Linked DNA regions of Homo sapiens: region 2 is linked to region 1. The links come from fine-mapping of genetic effects on gene expression. A gene starts in region 1. The other region holds a variant in brackets. All regions are shown on one strand. Distances are from middle to middle. Region 1 holds the start of GSTT4 (glutathione S-transferase theta 4). Region 2 has its middle 11 kb from the start of SGSM1.

Region 1 (5,374 bases):
AAGCCAGCGGGCAAGGCCCAGGCTTGAGGCTGGCTCCTCCCCAAATGTCCCCAGCTCATCCTTTCAGAGTCCTAGGAGCTGGGCAGACCCAGGGGAGACTCCACATTCAATCCCAGCTCACCACTTCCTCAATCCATGCCCTTGGGGAAATCACAGAACTTTGTGTGCCAGGTTTCTCCTCTGTAAAACGGAGTGGGAGGAATAATGTATCCACCTCCCAGGGCTTACCTGAGGATAGAAAATGGGCACCTAGTGTTCTGGGGCACTAGGAAGGGAACTTGGAGACCTTTTGGGCAGGGCCCACACGGCAGGCACTCTGAGTGGGGACCCTGATGCCAGGGAGTGGGGCCTGGGCACAGAGGGCAGGATGGTATGGTAACTGGGAGGGGAGGTGGAAACATGGGCCCAGGGAGGATCAGAGTTGGAAATGGAGAAACAGAGTGGTTTGGTCGTGGGGAGATACTGCCTGGAGGGAGTTGCAGTATAGGGGAGGTCCTCCCCTGAAGGTGAAGGTGGGGAGAAAACCTGGTCAAATCACCCTGAGTATGAGCAATGAAGCCACCTGGCCCTGACAGGCTGGAGAAAAGATCTCTGACACCCCCTGCCCACAGCATGGTCATCGTTTTATACCTGAGTCGAAAGTACCAGATACGGGGACACTGGTACCCACCTGAGCTGCAAGCCCGCACCTGCGTGGATGAGTACTTGGCGTGGAAGCATGTCACCATCCAGCTGCCTGCCACCAATGTCTACCTGTGCAAGGTGAGCTTCCTAGGCCCTGTCATGCAGGCTGGGGCAGGGGCCTGGACCCCCAGAGATGGAAGGCACCAGTTGGTACATATTACATATTAGCTTCACTTCCACTGTCCTCAGCAGACATAACTAATCTATCACAGTACTCCTTCCCCTAAGCCTGAATGAATCCTTAGAAACCTTCTGAACACAGAGCCCCAGAGGACATCACTAATGAGTGGCAGCCGGGAAGGGATGGAGAGGAGGCCCAAGAGGCTTCCAAGAGTCTGGGTTAAGTTGCTCCTCTCCTCCCAGCCCAGTCTCTCCTGCCCCACTTCTCCGGACAGCCTGCAGATGCTGCACAGCTGGAGCGGCTGTTGGGGAGGCTGATGCCAGCCCTGCAGCACCTGGATTGGGGGGTGCTGGTGGCCAGGCCCTTCCTGGCAATGGAGCAGATCTCCCTGGAAGACTTGGTGCTGACGGAGGTGATGCAGGTGAAGCTTTCCTACCCACCTGCCCTCTGGGGGGACTCTGGGCATGGGGCTGAGCCCCAACCCCAGCTGCCCTGTCTTCCCAGCCCACTGCCGTTGGCTGCGACCTCTTCCAAGACTGCCCCGGCTGGCAGTGTGGCAGGCCCGTGTGGCGGCTGCCCTTGGTACTGAGCTCTTGCTGGAGGCCCACAAGCTCATACTCCAGCCTCTGAACCACAGTGAGGCTTGGCGGGACCCCCAGCTGGCCCAGAAGCAGGTGCAGTGGGTGCAGCCCACTCCACTGCACCCTGCTGTCTGCAATAAACACACTGCATGCTCTTCGCTTGTCTCCAGGCTTACTCTGTCACCAGAAGTGGGGTCAGTCCCATTTCTCAGCCTAGACCTATTAGATCACAGCATAGAGTGAGTGGCACTCAGTCCTCTACGTGGGGCTCTAGTTACCTTCCTTGGCCACCAGGTACACAGTCTGGCCACTGCAGCCCCAACCAAGGCCAGGAAGTTTCTAGGCTCCTCTGTGTGGCACACACCGGCTGAGTGCCCCCTGACTTCCTGGTGGTGGTGTCCCCATTGCTCCCAAAGCTCACAGTTTCCTGTGTCTCTTTCTCCCAGTTCCTTTCTAGTCATAGTTCAGGCTCGATTCACCTGTGTCTCTTTCTCCCAATTCCTTTCTAGTCATAGTTCAGGCTCGATTTACCTGTGGATACTCCCAGCCTCTACTTCTAGAATCCTCCAGGGATAATTCTCATTGCCTCCTCTTCATTCTGGACCCTGCAAAGCCCCTTTCGTCAGGTTCTGCAATGAAAATCCAGCCGTGGGAATTCCCAGGCATAATCCCTTCTCAGACTGGTGTCTGTGAGGTGGCACCACGGGGCACAGGCACACGTGGAAGGGGGAGAGTAGGGTCACGGCTGCCACACCTTTGCCACGGGCCTCTCCCCAGCCTACTCCTGGGCCTCCTTAGAATCCTTGATGCTGTGAGAATTGCAGGCTTCCTGGCCTTATGACAACACAAAGGGAAACAAGAGGTTTCCCTGGGGAACACAGGATCCTGGGCCCAGATCGGAGAGGGCACAGGGCCAGGGACTCTGGCCAGACATAGGCCCAGGTCTGTGGCTGGCCAACTGCGGCTGTGGGGCCTGGCATGTGTCTCAACATGGCACTGGAGCTCTACATGGACCTGCTGTCAGCACCCTGCCGTGCCGTCTACATCTTCTCGAAGAAGCATGACATCCAGTTCAACTTTCAGTTTGTGGATCTGCTGAAAGGTCAACTCCCACTGCTGCCTGGCAGGCCTGGTCCTGGGGGGAGGCAGGACACACAGATTGCGGCTTTTCTTTTTTTCTTGTTTTTTGATGGAGTCTCGCTCTGTTGCCCAGCATGGAGTACGGTGGTGCTATCTCGGCTCACTGCAACCTCTGCTGGGTTCAAGTGCGTCTCCTGCCTCAGCCTCCCAAGTAGCTGGGATTAGAGGTGCATGCCACCACGCCCAGCTAATTTTTTGTATTTTTAACAGGGGTTTCACCATGTTGGCCAGGCTGGTCTCAAACTCCTGACCTCAAGTGATCTGCCCACCTCAGCCTCCAGAGTGCTGGGATTACAGGCGTGAGCCACCGCGCACAGCCTGATAGGGGCGTTTCTGAGGAGCAGAGACAGAGACAAGGGAATCACCCCAGAGGTCCACAGGGAAGGAAAAGATGCCACGCGGCTTGTAGGCTGCATCCTTGTCCAGCCTACCTTAGTCAGTGCTCACTAATGACAGTCCCCACGCCACAGATGAACAGGCTTTTCGAGGAGAAGGGGGAAGGAACAGTAGCTGGGACTCCCTGGGCTCCCACCAGGCACCCTGGCTTCCTTGTGGGATTCTAGGACCTTGTGAACTCAGCACCTGCCCACCAGGTTGGCAAAGGGGGCAGAAGTGCACAGTCCGTCTACACCCATCCTCCCCAGTGTTGAGAAAGGCTCAGGGCTCCACTAACCCTGAGTGAGGGTCAGAGGGGTGGGCTCCAACTCCATCCCCAGCACAGAGGGACTCCAAAAGCTCAGCCTGCAAAAGCAGAAGCCTCTAGAACACAGAGGAAGAGACAGGGAAGCTGTGGAAATGAACGGGCTGCGAGTGGAGCCCCCAGAAATGTTTCCAACTGGAGGCGGCTGGTCCAGGAAGAGTTTCAGTTCCTGCCCCCACCTCAGGTTCCCTGTTAAGATGACCCTGATTGTGTCCGAGAAGCTTCCCTTTGGATGTCCAGCTGTGTGCTGGGCCTGGCTTCCTTAAAGTGGAGACAGAGTGAGAGCGATGGGATTGCGGATGGGACCCAGGCCCTCAGGGCTTCAGGTGATTCAAAGGCTGTGTTTTCAGATCCAGCTTTGGGGGTGGGCACTGGAGGCCTCCAGCTTCTGGGTAAAAGGGTCGTCCTGGTCCTGGGACACAGGTAGGAGGCACGGGAGTCACCAAACCTAGGGTGGAGCAGGCTGGGAGCCAGCAGTTCTGATCGCAGTCCGGTTCTGCAACTGCCTTGCCCTGTGACCTGGGGTGAGACGCAATGTCCCTCCGGGCCTCAGTTCCCTCTTCTTGAGAAAATAGAGAGGGAGGCGTTTGGGTCTCTGGGAGTCTCAGTTCTCTCTCCCCTGGAGTCCCACAGCCTCAGACCTTCCCTGCCCCTCCCAGGTCACCACCACAGCAAAGGATACATTGACATCAACCCCCTCAGGAAGCTGCCCAGCCTCAAAGATGGGAAATTTATCTTAAGTGAAAGGTAAGTCTTCCCTGGGGCCCTTGCACCATCTGTCTCTGCTTCTCCTGGGAGGTTCAGTGCAAGCATTTGTCTGTTTGACCATGGAAAATCTCACACGTGCACTAAAGGAGAGTGAATACTAACTAATGAGGGACACGAGGAACCCCACAAATCCATCGCCCAGCTCTGACTCTTGCCAACTTGGGGTCCAGTTTACATCATTTCTATTCCCCTGCCTCCCAGACACCCCATCATTCCATTCATAAATGTTTAGAAGCCAGCTCATGCCTGTAATTCTAGCACTTTGAGAGGCTGAAGTGAGGGGATGGCCTGAGCTCACGTGTTCAAGACCAGCCTAGCCTAGACAACATGGCAAAACCCCATCTCTACAAAAAATACAAAAATTAGCCAGCATGGTGGTCTGCACCTGTAGTCCCAGCTACTCGGGAGGCTGAGGCGGAAAGACTGCTTGAGCCAGGAGGCAGAGGATGCAGTGAGCCAAGACTGCGTCGTTGCACTTCAGCGTGGGCAACAGAGTGAGATCCCATCTCAAAAATAAAAATAAATAAGTAAATAAATCAATAAATGTTTAGGAACATACTTTTCAGAGATAAGAGTTCTTAAAACAAACAAAAAAAAAGCAACAGGCTGGGTGTGGTGGCTCATGCCTATAATCCCAGCACTTCCAGAGGCTGACACGGGAGGATCGCTTGAGGCCAGGAAGTTCAGAACTGCAGTGAACTCTGATTGCGCCACTGCACTCCAGCCTGGGCTAGGATAGAGCGTAGCATCACTACGATACCATTAAGATACCTCATAAAATTAACAATAATTCCTGGATTTCATCTAATATGTGGCTCCTGTTCAAAACTCTATGATTATCTCCTAAACATTTTCTTGGCAGTTTGTTTGGATCAGGATCCAAAGAAGTTTTTTTTTTTTTTTTTTTTGAGACGGAGTCTCGCTCTGTTGCCCAGGCTGGAGTGCAGTGGCGCTATCTTGGCTCACTGCAAGCTCCGCCTCCCGGGTTCACGCCATTCTCCTGCCTCAGCCTCCTGAGTAGCTGGGACTACAGGTGCCCGCCACCATGCCTGGCTAATTTTTTTGTATTTTTAGTAGAGACGGGGTTTCACTGTGTTAACCAGGATGGTCTCGATCTCCTGACCCCATGATCCCCCCGCCTCGGCCTCCCAGAGTGCTGGGATTACAGGCGTGAGCCACCGTGCCCAGCCAAGAAGTTCTGAGTCTTGCAGCCAGTTGCTGTCTCTCCTGCCACTTTTTAACCGATAGCTCTCTCCATGCCCTGACCTTTTTACCTTGGCATGGTTGCTGCTGGTGATGATAAAGGAGCCCTTGTTCTGCGGAGGTTCCCACACCAGCCATCAATCAGCAAGGCCTAGGACATCCCCTCCGAAGCATGTC
Region 2 (5,374 bases), 790 kb before region 1:
GAGTGGTGAGTGACACCACAGTAGGTTTATGAATTTCTTTTTCAGGGCCTCCTAGGTATGGAGCAAGGAGCATTTTACAGGATGGGATGATGATGCTGTGTGAGCATGTGAAGGAAAGAACTCACTGGTAGGTGAATGATGTGAATGTGATTTCACAGAGTATGGGAACCCTGGACCCAGGGAATGAAGGCGGGAGGCTCCAGGGGAATTTTTAGAGAAAGCCTGGTGGCTCCTTTTGATGAGCAGCCCTGGTGAGCAGCAGGTTGATGAATGAAGTGATTTCACTGTAACAGATTTCCAAGTCTAAAATCGAGGATGTAAAGGAACCCTGCTTCTCCCCATAAATAGACAATCTCAACTTTTCTCTTCTTGATTTTCACTTAAGGCTGGATTTTTTTTTCTACTTTCTCCCAGATGAGTTTCATTCATTCATTCATTCATTCATTTTTTCAGTGTTTTGTTTGAGAGCCCACAATGTGCCCAGCATGAGGGACAGAGTATGAATAAGTCACATGATGTTGTTTCCTGCATGGAGCTCACATTTGAGCCAGGGGGAAGAGAGAGGCAATAATAAAGTGATCACATCAGCAAAATACCAGATTGTGGTCAATGTGATCAATAAAGCATGTGAGCTGGGTGGTGTGATAGTGAGTGTCCACGGGGTGACGTGGCCTGAGACGTGACAGATGGGAAGAAGCCAGTCAGGCTTGTGGTACTATTTGGGGAGGTGAGAGCATGACTGAGTTATGAATGGAGAGGGCAGCAGCGAGGCTGAGAGTTGGAGGAAGATCATTTTAGGTGCATGCAAGGGAGAACAGGTACAAAGTCCCCAAGGTGGGGATGAGCATGCCTAGACAAAGAAGAGAAAGGGTGCAGTTATATATATATATAAATATATATATATATATATATATATATATATATATATATATTTTTTTTTTTTTTTGAGATGGAGTCTCGCTCTGTCGCCAGGCTGGAGTGCAGTGGCACGATCTCGGCTCACTGCAACCTCCGTCTCCAGGGTTCAAGCGATTTTTCTGCCTCAGCCCCCCAAGTAGCTGGGATTACAGGCATGCACCACCACGCCTGGTTAATTTTTGTATTTTTAGTAGAGACGGGGCTTCACCATGTTGGCCAGGCTGGTCTCGAACTCCTGACCTCAGGTGATCCACCCGCCACGGCTTCCCAAAGTGCTGGGATTACAGGTGTGAGCCACAGTGCCCGGCAAGTGTGCAGTTATGACCGGAGTGCAGTGAGCACTTAAGGCCCCTTCAGCCCTTAACTCCGTAAAGGTAACCAGAAGAGTCTTGATTTCCTTCCTACACTCTTAGCCCAAATCTATCCATCAGCAACCCTTTTTAATTTATTATAGCAATATTCATATAAAATTCACCATTTTAAGCATTTTAAAGTGGACAAATCAGTGACATTCAGTACATTCAAGTATTGTGCAACTATCACCACTACATAGATCCACAATACTTTCGTTACTCCAGAAGGAAACCTCATACCCACTAAACAGTCACTCTTGTTGCCCCCGACTGCCATTAATCTGCTTTCTGTCTCTATGAGTTTACCTAGTCTGGGCTTTCCATATAAGGGGAACCATACAAAACAACCTTTTGGATCTGGCTTCTTTCACTTAGCATAATGTCTTTTGAAGTTCATACATGTTGTACCATTTATCAGTACTTCACTCCTTTTTTTTGAGACGGAGTCTTGCACTGTTGCCCAGACTGGAGTGCAATGGTGCAATCACAGCTCACTGCAAGCTCTGCCTCCCGGGTTCACACCATTCTCCTGCCTCAGCCTCCCGAGTAGCTGGGACTACAGCCGCCAGCCACCACACCAGGCTAATTTTTTGTATTTTTAGTAGAGATGGCATTTCACCGTGTTAGCCAGGATGGTCTCAATCTCCTGACCGCGTGATCTGCCCACCTCGGCCTCCCAAAGTGCTGGGATTACAGGCGTGAGCCACCGCGCCCGGCAGTACTTCACTCCTTTTTATGGCTGAATAATATTCCATTGTATGGCTAGACCACATTTTCTTTTTTTTTTTTTTTTTTTTTGAGACAGAGTCTCGCTTTGTCGCCCAGGCTGGAGTGCAGTAGTGTGATCTCAGCTCACTGAAAGCTCCATCTCTCTGGTTCATGCCATTCTCCTGCCTCAGCCTCCCAAGTAGCTGGGACTGCAGGTGCCTGCCACCATGCCCGGCTAATTTTTTGTATTTTTAGTAGAGA[C/T]GGGGTTTCACCGTATTAGCCAGGATGGTCTTGTCTCCTGACCTTGTGATCCGCCCGCCTCAGCCTTCTAAAGTTCTGGGATTACAGGCGTGAGCCACCGCGCCTGGCCTAGACAACATTTTCTTTATCCATTCCTCAGCTCATGGACGTTTGGAGAGTTTCCACCTTTTGCCTAATGTGAATGGTGCAGCCATGAATATTTGTGTACCGGTTTTTGTGTCTACAAATATTTTCATTTTCATTCTCATGGGTATATAACTAGAAGTAGAATTGCTGGGTAATATGGTAAATTTATTTATTTATTTATTTATTTATTTATTTATTTATTTATTGAGACGGAGTCTCGCTCTTGCCCAGGCTGCAGTGTAGTGGCGTGATCTCGGCTCACTGCAACTTTCACTTCCTGGCTTCAAGTGATTCTCATGCCTCAGCCTCCCGAGTAGCCGGGATTACAGGTGCCCGCCACCACACCCAGCTAATTTTTGTATTTTTAGTGGAGATAGGGTTTCACCATGTTGACCAGGCTGGTCTCGAACTCCTGACCTCAGGTGATCCACCCACCTTGGCCTCCCAAAGTGCTGGGATTACAGGTGTGGGCCACCGCGCCCGGCCTGTAATTTTTTTGTTTGTTTGTTTGAGACAGAGTCTCGCTCTGTCACCCAGACTGGAGTACAGTGGCGCGATCTCGGCTCACTGCAAGCTCCACCTCGCCAGTTCACGCCATTCTCCTGCCTCAGCCTCCCAAGTAGCTGGGACTACAGGTGCCTGCCACCACACCTGGCTAATTTTTTGTATTTTTTAGTAGAGATGGGGTTTCATCGTGTTAGCCAGAATGGTCTCGATCTCCTGACCTCGTGATCCGCCCACCTCAGCCTCCCAAAGTGCTGGGATTACAGGTGTGAGCCACTGCGCCTGGCCCCAGCCTATAATTTTATGTTTAACATTTTAGGAACCTTTGCACTCCCATAGTGACTACACCATTTTGTACTCCTAGCAGCAATGTATGGGGATTTCAATTTTTCCACATCTTTGCCAAAACTTTTAAAATGTATTATTATTATAGTCATCCTAGTGGGTGTGAAGTGATACCTCATTGTCATTTTGGTTTGCATTTCCCTATGAGTAATGTGTTGAACATCTTTTCATATGCTGTGAGCCATTTTTGTATCTTCTTTGGAGAAACATCTACGTAAGTGCTTTGCCCATTTTTTAATTGGGTTGTTTGTCTTTTTGTCATTGAGTTGTACAAATTCCCTATGTGTTCTGGATACTAGACCCTTATTACGTATGTAATTCATGAATATTATTTTCTTTCATTATTATTATTATTATTATTTTTGAGACAGAGTCTCGCTCTGTAGCCCAGGCTGGAGTGCAGTGGCGCCATCTTGGCTCACTGCAAGCTCTGCCACCCGGGTTCACGCCATTCTCCTGCCTCAGCCTCCCAAGTAGCTGGGACTACAGGCGCCCGCCACCACACCTGGCTAATTTTTTTGTATTTTTAGTAGAGACGGGTTTCACCATGTGAGCCAGGATGTTCTCCATCTCCTGACCTCGTGATCTGCCTGCCTCAGCCTCCCAAAGTGCTGGGATTACAGGCGTGAGCCACCGCACCTGGCCTGTGCTGTGGATTCCTTAAGATTTTTTATATTTAAGGTTGTATTTCAGGCCGGGTGCTGTGGCTCATGCCTGTAATCCCAGCACTTCGGGAGGCTGAGGTGGGTGGATCACCTGAGGTCAGGAGTTCAAGACCAGCCTGGCCAACATAGTCTCTACTAAAAATACAAAAATTAGCCGGGCGTGGTGGTGGGTGCCTGTAATCCCAGCTAGTCTGGAGGCTGACGCTGGAGAATTGCTTGAACCCAGGAGGCTGAGGTTGCAGTGAGCTGAGATTACACCACTGCACTCCAGCCTGGGCAACAGAGCGAGACTCCATCTCAAAACAAAACAAAACAACAACAACAAAAATAAGGTTGTATTTCTATATATGCGAATGTATATAGTTTTACTTCTTTCTTTCCAACTTGGATGCCTTTTGCTTCTTTTTAATATGATACAATGTTGCCTGATTGGCATGCCTAAAACTTCCAGGACAACGTTGAATGGAAGTGGTGAAAGAGAGCATTCTTGTTTGGTTCCTGCTCTTAGGGCAGAGCGTTGAATTTTCCACCGTTGAGTATGATTGATTCAGCCAGGCTTTGGGCCTTGAATCTGTCTACTTTCCTCTATTCCCACTCCCATTTGCCAGCCCATATCACTGCCTCTTAGCTGGGCGACTGCCACAGCCTTGTAAAGTGGATCGCCACTCTTCCCCCTGTTCTGAACCCCTCCTGTCAGTTCTTACACACGTCAATCTCTTCCTTCTGGGGTTCAGAGGATCCAGGTCCCTGCAGGCTTCCCCTTCGCATTTTGCTTCTTTCATAGCGTTTATCATGATTTTATTCAATTTTTTTTTTTTTTTTGAGACGGAGTCTTGCTCTGTCGCCCAGGCTGGAGTGCAGTGGCACGATCTTGGCTGACTGCAAGCTCCGCCTCACAGGTTCACGCCACTCTCCTGCCTCAGCCTCCCGAGTAGCTGGGACTACAGGCGCTCACCACCACGTCCAGCTAATTTGTTTTTATTTTTAGTAGAGACAGGGTTTCACCATGTTAGCCAGGATGGTCTTGATCTCTTGACCTTGTGATCCGCCCGGCTTGGCCTCCCAAAGTGCTGGGATTACAGGCGTGAGCCACCGCGCCCAGCCATTTTATTCTAGGTTTTAAATTTGTATTTTGTATAAAGCTCATTTCTATCAGTAGAATGTAAAACAATTCTGCATCTAGCAGTTCAATAGAGCAACTGTTTCTGTCTCTTAGGGTCTCTTCCTGTGTTGGCACCCCCAGGCAGTCATTGTTTTGTACTGTGTTACTTGATGTTGGCACAGAACTTTAAAGTGTATAAAGTGTTTTCACAGCCATCACTTGACCCTCACATTGACCTTGTGAGGTAAATGTCACAACCAGTTACAACGGATGTTTTCCATGCTGCACACAGAGCAGTTGGAGTCAATGAGACTAGTAACTTGCACAAAGACTGGTAGTAAGTGGCAGATCCAGGATGGCATGAAGGGCTCGGAGGTGACAACCAGTGCAAT

The links.
Region 2: its variant is fine-mapped to the expression of GSTT4 in testis (GTEx, PIP above 0.99).

The regions. Positions count from the first base shown.
Region 1 is chr22:24,002,359-24,007,732 of GRCh38, reverse strand. It overlaps GSTT4 (glutathione S-transferase theta 4), which reads left to right and starts at 2,280. Exons shown (of 5, transcript NM_001358664.2): 1 at 2,280-2,488; 2 at 3,886-3,973. The coding sequence starts at 2,377. LOC105372959 (a long non-coding RNA gene) reads right to left here and starts at 2,182. Exons shown (of 2, transcript XR_001755457.1): 1 at 2,141-2,182; 2 at 1-2,015.
Region 2 is chr22:24,792,335-24,797,708 of GRCh38, reverse strand. No RefSeq gene overlaps it. Among named protein-coding and RNA genes, the nearest start is that of SGSM1, 11 kb to the left of the region's middle. The variant C/T (reference allele first, on the strand shown) is at 2,241.